Linked DNA regions of Homo sapiens. The protein of the gene in region 1 purifies or fractionates together with the protein of each later gene. This does not show direct contact. Each region holds a gene or a part of one and is shown in the gene's direction. Other genes may lie near its edges. The genes, in order: EIF4G3, PABPC4 and EXOSC7.

Evidence for each region.
Region 2: the proteins of EIF4G3 (region 1) and PABPC4 fractionate together in Homo sapiens (co-fractionation; one large-scale study listed by BioGRID). This does not show direct contact.
Region 3: the proteins of EIF4G3 (region 1) and EXOSC7 fractionate together in Homo sapiens (co-fractionation; one large-scale study listed by BioGRID). This does not show direct contact.

Annotation. Positions count from the first base shown.
Region 1 is NC_000001.11:20,935,898-20,939,397, reverse strand, and holds part of EIF4G3 (eukaryotic translation initiation factor 4 gamma 3), read left to right. Parts: intron 1-3,500. UniProt on the Homo sapiens protein: Component of the protein complex eIF4F, which is involved in the recognition of the mRNA cap, ATP-dependent unwinding of 5'-terminal secondary structure and recruitment of mRNA to the ribosome. Functional homolog of EIF4G1.
Region 2 is NC_000001.11:39,563,529-39,566,995, reverse strand, and holds part of PABPC4 (polyadenylate-binding protein 4), read left to right. Parts: intron 1-1,617; coding exon 1,618-1,890; exon of another isoform or gene 1,891-1,926; intron 1,927-2,222; coding exon 2,223-2,310; intron 2,311-2,453; coding exon 2,454-2,573; intron 2,574-3,073; coding exon 3,074-3,160; intron 3,161-3,254; coding exon 3,255-3,382; intron 3,383-3,467.
Region 3 is NC_000003.12:45,000,180-45,003,909, forward strand, and holds part of EXOSC7 (exosome complex component RRP42), read left to right. Parts: intron 1-1,358; coding exon 1,359-1,429; intron 1,430-3,730. UniProt on the Homo sapiens protein: Non-catalytic component of the RNA exosome complex which has 3'->5' exoribonuclease activity and participates in a multitude of cellular RNA processing and degradation events.

The DNA of each region.
Region 1 (3,500 bases):
ACACCAGCACCTTAATCAAAGAGTATAGACTCTTCAGTGGTAATCCAGAGAGCACTTAGAAAAGAAAGAACTGTTTTTTTAATGACTTGGAATAACAGAGGTTTGTGATGTTGGGAGGTAAAGTTTCTTGGCATTTTTCTAGTCTCCTGATTTTTTAACCTATGTGTTTAAGGGAATTACAAGTTTTATAATTTCCTTGTACATCTTAATAGTCTTCAAAATCCAACAGTAAATGAACTTCAAGAACCCCTGCAACTCTAGCTTTTTTTTTTTTTTTTTTTAATTTTTTTTAAGATGGAGTCTCGCTCCATCGCCCGGGCTGGAGTGCAGTGGTGCAATCTCGGCTCACTGCAACCTCTGGCTCCCAGGTTCAAGCAATTCTCCTGCCTCAGCCTCCTGAGTAGCTGGGATTATAGGCGTGTGCCACCACGCCTGGCTTATTTTTGTATTTTTAGTAGAGACGGGGTTTCACCTTGTTGGTCAGGCTGGTCTCGAACTACTGACCTTGTGATCCGCCCGCCTCAGCCTCCCAAAGTGCTGGGATTACAGGCATGAGCCACCACACCTGGCCAGCAGTTTGTAAATTATAAAGCCTCAGAAGCATTTCTGACCCATTCATTTCTGTCCGAATATTTTTTAATGGTTTTGTCACAAAAGTTAACAATGAAAATTAAAATTACCTCCAGTCTTTAAGTATATCCACCTGACGTGGTCATATGCTTAATGACTATAATTTATTTGCACTTATTCACATAATATTCACTTATTATACCTTGTTTACTTTGAGAAGTTAGTAAATCATAACAGCCGTTTACTTTGAGAAGTTAATAAATTGTAACACCAAAACAGTCTGGTTTGCCTATGAGTCTTTTGGTGGTGACTTTTGAGAATAGTTTTTACTTGTCTCTGCCTGAGGATGAAACACCTCAAAGCTGGCTTCAGAAACCTGATACATAAATAACATATCAGTTGGTATAGAGATAGTTGGTTAAAGCAGTAAAGTTATAACATAAGGGATATGGTATCTTTTAGTTCTGCTGCAAAACATTTTCTTGTAACTATTCTAGATCATATTTCTGAGTGAATAAAAATGCATCAGTTGAGGCCGGGCGCGGTGGCTCATGCCTGTAATCCCAGCACTTTGGGAGGCTGAGGAGGGTGGATCACCTGAGGTCACGAGTTTGGGACCAGCCTGGCCAACATGGTGAAACCCCGTATCTACTAAAAATACAAAAATTACCCAGGAGTGGTGATGCGCCTGTAATCCCAGCTATTCTGGAGGCTGAGGTGGGAGAATTGCTTGAACTTGGGAGATGGAGGCTGCAGTGATCCAACATCGCGCCACTTCACTCCAGCCTAGGCAACTGAGCAAGACCCCATCTTAAAAAAAAAAAGAAAGCATCAGTTGTTTTCGGATTGAAGAACAAGCTCTGTAAAATTAGAATTTGGTGTGTATATATCTTCAGTGTACTCTGAAAAGCCTCAGTTATTGGCCACACTTTTAATATCACCGTCACTTTAGTAATTAAATGCATAAAACTAGATATTAATTGGATGATATATTAAAGTCTTGGGAATTTTTATTGTTTATTCTCTGTATCTGGTGGGAGGAAAAAGGAGTGTTTTGAACTTGTGGGAAAGCATTCCCCATTAATCATCCAGGAGTTTGTTTTCTACAATTTTAGGAATGTATATGATGTATAGTATGTAACATTAACTTTCCCACTTTTTAAAAGAATTGTGACTTTTTTATTTTATTATTTTTACCTGTATCAGATATAAAACCATTATTTAAATTTTCTTAGGCAGAGGGAGATTTCTAATTTTTCTATTTATTTTGTTTTTTTGGCTCTTGCTTATAGTACATTTTTAATGTATATTTTGTAAGTTTGTTTTATGAACTTATCCAGATAAATTTTCCTGGATGTAGATTGATGGCAAGTTATTCTAAAGCAGATTTGTGTTTACTTTATCTGCTGCATGTCTTGGGGAAAGCATTTGCTGGAACTAAATCTGGGTTTAATGTTTGTTAGAACTAAATCTGGGTTTAATGTCCTAAAGCTACAGTTCTATCCCAAAGCCTAAGGACAGCCATACCGTATGGCTTGGATACTAATTTTCAGGGTAACAGCAATCTTCTCTCCATCCAGTTGAAACAACGTCCTTTCTCATCATCACTGTGTTGGTTCAGTGGTTTATTCCCTCTCTCTCTTTTTTAAGCTATCTTTTCACTGAGCATGTCACCCATTTGGGAGTCTCAGAGCTTTATGTGAGCATCTCAGTTCCAGGTTCCCACTTTGCAGGGATCCAAGATCTCTCTTTTCTTATGGGTGTTAAAAATACAAATTCATTGGTTATAGAGACTGGCACACCCTTCTACACCCCCAGGAATGTAAGGATGGCATCAGCCACTGACCTGTAGTTTACCTTATATTCTCGTAAGCTCAGCTAAGGATGTAGAAGGGTTTCCAGATTCTGTAGAATATAACATAGGAAGTTTATTTCTCAAATGGAGATACGATTATATGTTTTGGTAATGTTAACAAAATACTGATCCATGTAGCCAATCAAGTTGCTGCTTTCTCTTTTAGTTTAGACTTACTGAAGTGTAAAGGGAGCATACTTCAGTGCAAGAAAAATATTTTAATAACAACCCTTGCTTTATTCTCAACTGTGAGAGTATTCAGAGTACTTTCAAAGAAATAAACATAGCAAACATAAAACCAGAGATATAAAAGTCTATCAGTTTTCCTAGATTAAACTAAAAATGACTAATCTTTTAAATAATAAAATTTATTCTAACCTTTGCTCAACTTACATATTCTAAAATATATTTGAAATATCTCTGGAAGATTTAGTCGCTGGGGCCAAAAGTAGATTGCCAATGGTTTGAGTATCCTGTTGGCCTAATCACTATACTACTATGCATCCTTATAATTTAGCTTCTACAGAAACGTGTTCTGGAAACATGGAAACAGGACTCCTTACACATTCCTGGTTCTTTGTCATCTACCAAAACAAGCAGAGTGATCCTTAAAGCAAGGACCATTGGCTTCAGTTTTCAGAGGCTTGAGTCTGAGTGATCCTTAGGGATAAATAAAGGTTTTCTCCACCTTGTTTGTAAACTGTTTCCAACAAAGCTGCCTAAAAGGTATGTTTCTGCCATCCCATTCCTATTTTCTTGTTTCCCTCCCCAGTAAACTCTTAGGCATTCCTTGGAAAATACTGATGCTGGTCAAATTCTTTTATATACTGCAGAATGAGCCCAGACACCTGTTAGTTGAGCCTGTTGGCAAGTCCCTTACGTAGTTCTTCCTTGCCTCTTTATGTGGGATAGATTTCCCCATTTTTTACAGTAGTTCATGTCTTTCATCATGAGCCCTAAAGTCTCAGTCATTGGGTATTAACTTAGTTCTACATCTTTCTGAGTAGTTATACTTTGTTCAAAATGTAGCTCCCTTTTCCCCACATTTAGTAACTAATCCTCCTCCATGACAAAG
Region 2 (3,467 bases), about 19 Mb from region 1:
GAAGCCACGTGGGCTGGTAAGGGCTTAGTGGCCCTGCCCTGGCTCTTAGTGGACTTTGCTCCCAACCTGGGAATGTGGAAAGCAATGTTATCAGTTGTAGTAGGGAGTTGGCCAGAGGCCAACTGTGGGTTTGCCCAGTTCTTACCCTTTCGTTTTTGCTATGACCCCCCCCTTGACTGGCCCTCATCAGTGTAAGGAGTGATCTTCTATCCTTGCTTATCTGCCTAGTAGTCAAGTTGGCATTTGTTAAGAGAGCAGAAGAGCCATACCTTGAATTGTCCCCATTTTCATTATGATGGTGTGGCATTTTTATTCACATACCTTACTGGCCCATCTCATTGGTAGAGAGTTATGGAGTGATGCACTTCTTTACTTCCCTATCCTCCACTTCAGGAGGCTCTCTGGGCCATTAACTAAGACATAAAACAATGACAGTCACACCAGAGAAGACAGTGAATAACCTTGTCTATTAGGAAGAATGCCATTTGTGAATGATGAACTTAATGTGGGAAAAGACTGCCTGAACCAGTAGACCTGTGGTTTTGTAGCTGTTTGGAGTATTTCTTGGAAATTGAGCCTCAGGAAGGCAAGTGAGACTAGAATCTAGGCTGCCTATCTCTGAGCTGGTCATCTCATTGAATTAATGGTGGCAGTCATTGGTTACCTGAACATTTTAGGACTCCTGTCCACACGTGGTATTCCAAAAGTGTTATCCTGACGTTGGTAAGAGCTTGTTAGAGTTTGTCCACCGAGGTCTTGAAGCATATGAGATATGAAAATAAATTGCTCAGTACTACTCTCAAGATGTTTTGTGGTTACCCGGAGTAGCTATCCACCAGGTATCAGGAAACATCTTTGAGTTCCTGGTTTTATTATTAGCCATATCATAGTGTTTCAGAACTTTAGCATCACCTGGGGACTCAAAGAAAACACCTAGATACCTTAGAGGTTGTGACTTAGTTGGTCTGGGGTAAATCCTGTGCCAGAACCCTGACCTAGACTCAGTGACTGCAGCAGAACCCAGGCTTTCTGGTTCTTCTGAATAGTTCCCTCCCCACCCAGGGACATCCTTTTTTTTCCTATTTGTAGGTTTGTTTTGTTTTTTTTGTTGGTTTGGTTGGTTGGTGTTTTTGTTTTGTTTTGTTTTGTTTTGTTTTGTTTTGTTTTGGAGATGGAGTCTCGCTCTGTCGCCCAGGCTGGAGTGCAGTGGCGCGATCTCGGCTCACTGCAATCTCTGTCTCCCGGGTTGAAGCGGTTCTCCTGCCTCAGCCTCCTGAGTAGCTAGGATTACAGGTGTGTGCCACCACGCCCAGCTGATTTTTGTATTTTTAGTAGAGACGGGGTTGCACCATGTTGGTCAGGATGGTCTTGAATTCCTGACCTCGTGATCCACCCACCTCGGCCTCCCAAAGTGCTGGGATTACAGGCATGAGCCACTGCGCCTGGCCCTTTGTTTTTTTGAGATGAGGTCTCACTACATTGCTCAAGCTGGTCTCAACCTCCTGAGCTCAAGCAGCCCTCCCACCTCAGCCTTCCAAAGTGCTGGGATTACAGGCACAAGCCATCACACCCAGCCAGGGACACCTTATTTCTTAAGTAGCTGGTCTCATTTTGTAGGTAATGCTGGAGGATGGAAGAAGCAAAGGGTTTGGCTTCGTCTGCTTCTCATCTCCTGAAGAAGCAACCAAAGCAGTCACTGAGATGAATGGACGCATTGTGGGCTCCAAGCCACTATATGTTGCCCTGGCCCAGAGGAAGGAAGAGAGAAAGGCTCACCTGACCAACCAGTATATGCAACGAGTGGCTGGAATGAGAGCACTTCCTGCCAATGCCATCTTAAATCAGTTCCAGCCTGCAGCGGGTGGCTACTTTGTGCCAGCAGTCCCACAGGTGGGTGTGCTGTTTGGTCACAGCTCTTGGGAACCTGCCGGCTGGCAGTATTCTGCAGTGGTTGGGGAGAGGGATTTTTCGTTATTAGAGTTCTAGAATGTCACAATAAGGACCCTTCAAGTAAAAATGAAGGACTTACCCATGGTCACAAACACACACCCACAGTGGCAGTGGTAGCATAAAACAGTCCCCATTAGCTGACCCCTCAGCTCTTGAATAGAAAGAACATTTAAATAATTAGCTTAGGTCCTGGTTAGTGAGATGAGATGAGATACTTCTCTAGGATGGGTTCAGTCCTTAAGGGGGTGTTTGGGTATTCTTCTGTCTTACAGGCTCAGGGAAGGCCTCCATATTATACACCTAACCAGTTAGCACAGATGAGGCCTAATCCACGCTGGCAGCAAGGTGGGAGACCTCAAGGTAGGTGGTGGGGAACAGTAATTGACAGCCCAGGATATACCTGTCCTGGTCTCCCCTGCCTTTCCTTCTTCCCCACTCTGAGGCACAGCCTAGGTTCTGGTCCACATCACTTCTCAATGATGTGCAATTTTTCTCTTCACCAGGCTTCCAAGGAATGCCAAGTGCTATACGCCAGTCTGGGCCTCGTCCAACTCTTCGCCATCTGGCTCCAACTGGTAATGCTCCGGCCTCTCGTGGCCTCCCTACTACCACTCAGAGAGTCGGTGAGCAAACTGGCCTTTAGAAGTGTGGCCTGGGGAGGAGGGAGTCAGGATGACTAGGCTCTGTCCTGGGTTGGTCAGTTTGTTGGGCTCGAATTTATCGAGTCCTGGTTCTGTAATCTTAGCTGTGTGCTTAGGTGGCCACTTCAGGAGCAGAGAAACAGTATGAGTTCTAGGTGTGTCAGTTGCTTTTAACATTCTTTGCTCATCGGTGACCTATGTGAAAAAGGTTAGTTGTAGAAGTTTGCTAGCTGGATGACCACAGAGGCAGCTTGTTCTTTTGGGTGGGGTGAGGAATACAAGGAAACAGTGTATACAGAATATGTCTTGTATTCCAAGATGTGGAAAGAGTTGTATGTTATCCTTTGGCTCATCCTCGAAAGTAGTAGTGGCCCCCTGTGCAATGTGTTGCGTAAACGTGCTTTGAAATTTCTCCTTCCGTGGGACGTGGCCAGTTGGACATCTGCCGCCAACACTGATGTGCATTTGCTGGTCTGTTGTAGGGTCTGAGTGCCCGGACCGCTTGGCTATGGACTTTGGTGGGGCTGGTGCCGCCCAGCAAGGGCTGACTGACAGCTGCCAGTCTGGAGGTGGTATTGGATGCACACAGAAGGGGGAAAGATGGGATTTGACGGGTCTTTGCCCAGACTGATGGGCTTTAATTGTATTTGTTCTTTCCCTAAGGCGTTCCCACAGCTGTGCAGAACTTAGCGCCACGCGCTGCTGTTGCTGCTGCTGCTCCCCGGGCTGTTGCCCCCTACAAATACGCCTCCAGTGTCCGCAGCCCTCATCCTGCCATACAGCCTCTGCAGGTGAGGTTCACCAGACAGAATGCTTAAAAGGATTTCCCCCATTTCCACTTGATGTAAAAGAAGCTGTGCTTTTGATTCCTTCAAC
Region 3 (3,730 bases), on another chromosome or scaffold:
ACTTTGCTGCACTAACAACACACAGCTGACCTTTGGTGGGGTGATTGGTCACAAGCCTGTCTTTTGATGGGTTCTTTCACAAATAATCACTAACCTTCTTCCTCATAGCACCCCTTCTGTTGGGCTCTGGGGATAAAAGGATGAACAAAACTACAGAGTCCCAGCCTTTAGGAGTTCACAGTTCAACTGCAGAGGAGATAGACTCTAAACAAAAACAGAACTACATGACTTTTCTTTCTATGTGTGACTTCTCACCTTTCTTATTTGGGGCAGCCCAGTCGGCTTTATTCCATAACCTCAGGCCAAGGCCTCTCTAAAATGAGGACAGAAGGATATGCCACCTTCCAGTTAAATGTGCTCTAATTTTCCCTGCTAGATGAGCATACGTAAGTGCACTCAACACTTTCGCTCATGGGCAGAAGCTTGTCTGAGAGACTTTAGTCTTCATTATAAGTAATGTAAAACATGTAGTATTTCATGTCTGAGCATCAGATATACATTGATCATTACATACGAGAAGTAATTACACTAGTAAATGTGAACCTAGTAGCAGCCGCAACATCAGTAGCCACCGTTTTCTCCTTGTTTGGAGGCCAGGCATATGTTAGCAAAGATTAGAGTAACACTTGGAGTACAATTGGGAGCTATCTGGGGCAAAATAAAGGTGATCAGTCCCACCTTCAGGGCAGCCCCAACTGCCTGAAGTGCCTGTGAGAGGAGCCCACCCACAAGCCATGGCCTCTGAGTGTTGGTACCACAGCCCTGCCAACTGTGACCTTGTGTGCATGGGCCACGTAAGCACAGCTATGACAAGGCAGTGCCTGTAATTAGGGTGAAGGACTGTGTCAGTGAGTTGCAGTCACTGCATGGCTAGCCAGGAGAGAAGCCACATGTTATCTTTATTTTATAAACACACAGTCAGCATTTCTTAGAAATCAGTGTCCTTGACCACAGAATAGATTTAGGGAAAGAAAAAAAAAAATCGGTGTCCTGGCCGGGCGTGGTGGCTCATGCCTATACCCCAGCACTTTGGGAGGCTGAGGTAGGCGGATCACTTTTGGTCAGGAGTTCAAGACCAGCCTGGCCAACATGGTGAAACCCTAAAATACAAAAATTAGCTGGGGGTGGTGGCGCACACGTGTAATCCCAGCTATTCGGGAGGCTGAGGTGGGAGAATTACTTGAACCTGGGAGGCAGAGGTTGCAGTTAGCCAAGATTGCACCACTGCACTCCAGCCTGAGTGACAGAGCGAGACTCTGTCTCAAAAAAAAAAAAGCAGTGTCCTTTAACTGGGGTAATACCTAAAGTAATAAGTGATGCTTGGTTTTTTTTCCTTTTTCAATTCCTGTCTCCCTTAGCTTCTGGAATGTGGTGGAAATTTGTTTGATGCCATTTCCATTGCTGTAAAGGCTGCTCTCTTCAATACAAGGTAAGTCTTCCTAGAAACAGCTCTGCGAACCTGTGGAGAACCAGAGCAGACACTTGTAATGGAACACTGAGGAAATTTCTATTGTAGCTCATATGTGAAGATAACAGGGGGTTTTAACATTGAAAATGGTGACATCTAACGTTAAACTCCAGAAAAGATAGATTTCGTGAATTAAAACTACATATATACGTATATTCTGTATTTATTTTTTGTATTGTTATTTTTATAAATAGACACCTACCATTTAGAAAAATATTAGAAAACTACAGAGAAGCCAAGAAGAGTAGACACCACCTACAGGCCAACTATCCAAATACTATTACTGGGTGAACTCTATGGGGGCAAGGATTTTGCCTGTTTTGTACTTGCCTATATTCCTAGCACCATGAACAGTACCTGACACATAGTAAGTGCTTGCATATTGCTTGATTGTACACATGTGTGTTCTAAAAGCAGGGTAACAGGCTTCCCTTTGGTTTAAGAAGAGGAAATGGCTATTCCACATGGTTCAGCTTTCCAAACAGGTTGTGTAGAAGGGACAAGTTGCTATGCTTTTTTGGAGTTGACATTTATTCTGACTGATTGACCTTTCCCCCTTTTATGCTCCAAGTACTTTGAGGAAAATTTGCAGCATTTATGAGTAAATACGTGGGATAGGGTGTTCATCCTATGAGAGAGCCTACATTAAGGTAACAGAGGATCCTATTAAAAAACGAGGATTAGAAACTTCTAGGGATATAACCTAAGGACATAATTGAATAAATGAGCAAAGATGTTTATTCTAGGATGTTCATCACATCCTAGAATAAACATTACACTGCTTTGTAATGGTAAGAAACTGGAAACAACCTGAGTTTCACAATGGAGGGGATTGAAGTCCACACAGCAGCCTATTTAAAGGCATGTTAATATGGAAAATAGTTCACTAAATGCAGTCCCCTCATCCTGGTTTTTGTTTGTTGGTTTGTTGTATTTTACTTTGGTAGTTCTTATATGTAATGTGTCTGGAAATATGTACCCCCAAGTAATCACTGTAATTATTTTTCAGTGCTCATATTTTGGCCAACATAACATTTACCTGTTTTTTAGAGCTTTTCTATGATGAGTTTAGACTCCCTGTGTAATTTAGAGCAGACAAAAATTGCAGGCTGGAATATTTGCTGAGAATGAAAGCTGTAGAGTCCCCCACCCCTAGCTGTGCCACTAGGCTCCTTGTTGAGACTATTTGAAATGTGAGCCTGGCACTCTTGGCCACCGTGGGAGCTTGCGTGCCAGATCCCACAGCAGTAGCTGGTGCTCGGGCCCTGTTGGGGAAGGAAAGGAAGCTGTCATCTGATTTATCTTGAGCCTCAGAAATGACTCCCCATCTGCCAGCTGGTTCCTATAGGCACCCAGGCAAAAAGAGAGATTGGGAACCAGACAAGGCTGTTTAGCTGTGGGGGAGTTGCTGGCCAAACTGTATACCAGAAAGGTTAACCCAGCTGCTCAGGTAGGGGAGGACACCTGTCATGGGCACAGCCATAGTCTCATCCTCAGACCAAGAACAGCCCTGCAGGCAGCAAGGAATGGGGACTCTAAGGCATCAAGTCCCCCTGGTATGTGGAGAGACTATTGGCATATTCAGGGTCCTTTAGAAGGGTAAAGGCCACCTGAGGGTATTCTTTAGCCCTTCTGCCCAGGCTTGTTGTAGCCAAAGGGTTGGGAAATTGGGAGATACTGTGCGTGCGTGCGTGCGTGCGTGCGTGTGTGTGTGTATGTGTGTGTGTAAATGGTTGACAACTTGTTCAAATAGGATATTACTTAGTAGAACTTCCTCTGATGGGAAGGCTCCAAATGGGGAAGACCCTTACAGAACTCCTTGGCCCTTGTCAACATTCTCTGGCTGAAGCTCCCCTGATCTGATCTAGATGTTGCCTTGTGTATGGATGGCCAGCAGGGCTCAATCATGGGGGGTTTTGTTAGAGGAACTGGGAAAAGTACTAATGCTGTTTCCATTACAGTAGCTGGATGGACCACCTCTTCCTTCCTGGCTCCTCCAACCCAGCCTGGAGTGAATTGACTTTATAGGTTAAATGTGTTTTTCAGTACCCAGCTGAAGAAACAGAATGTTGCCAGCACCCCAGAAGCATCCCACACCTTCTGTACCCCCATGCAATTACACTCACTGATGATAACCAGCATCTTAAAAGAATAGATTACTTTTGTACTTGATATAAATGGTATCATATACTATGTTCTGTTTTGTGTCTGCCTCATTCACTAAGCATTGTGTTTTGAGAGATCTGTGTTGCTGCCTTAGTC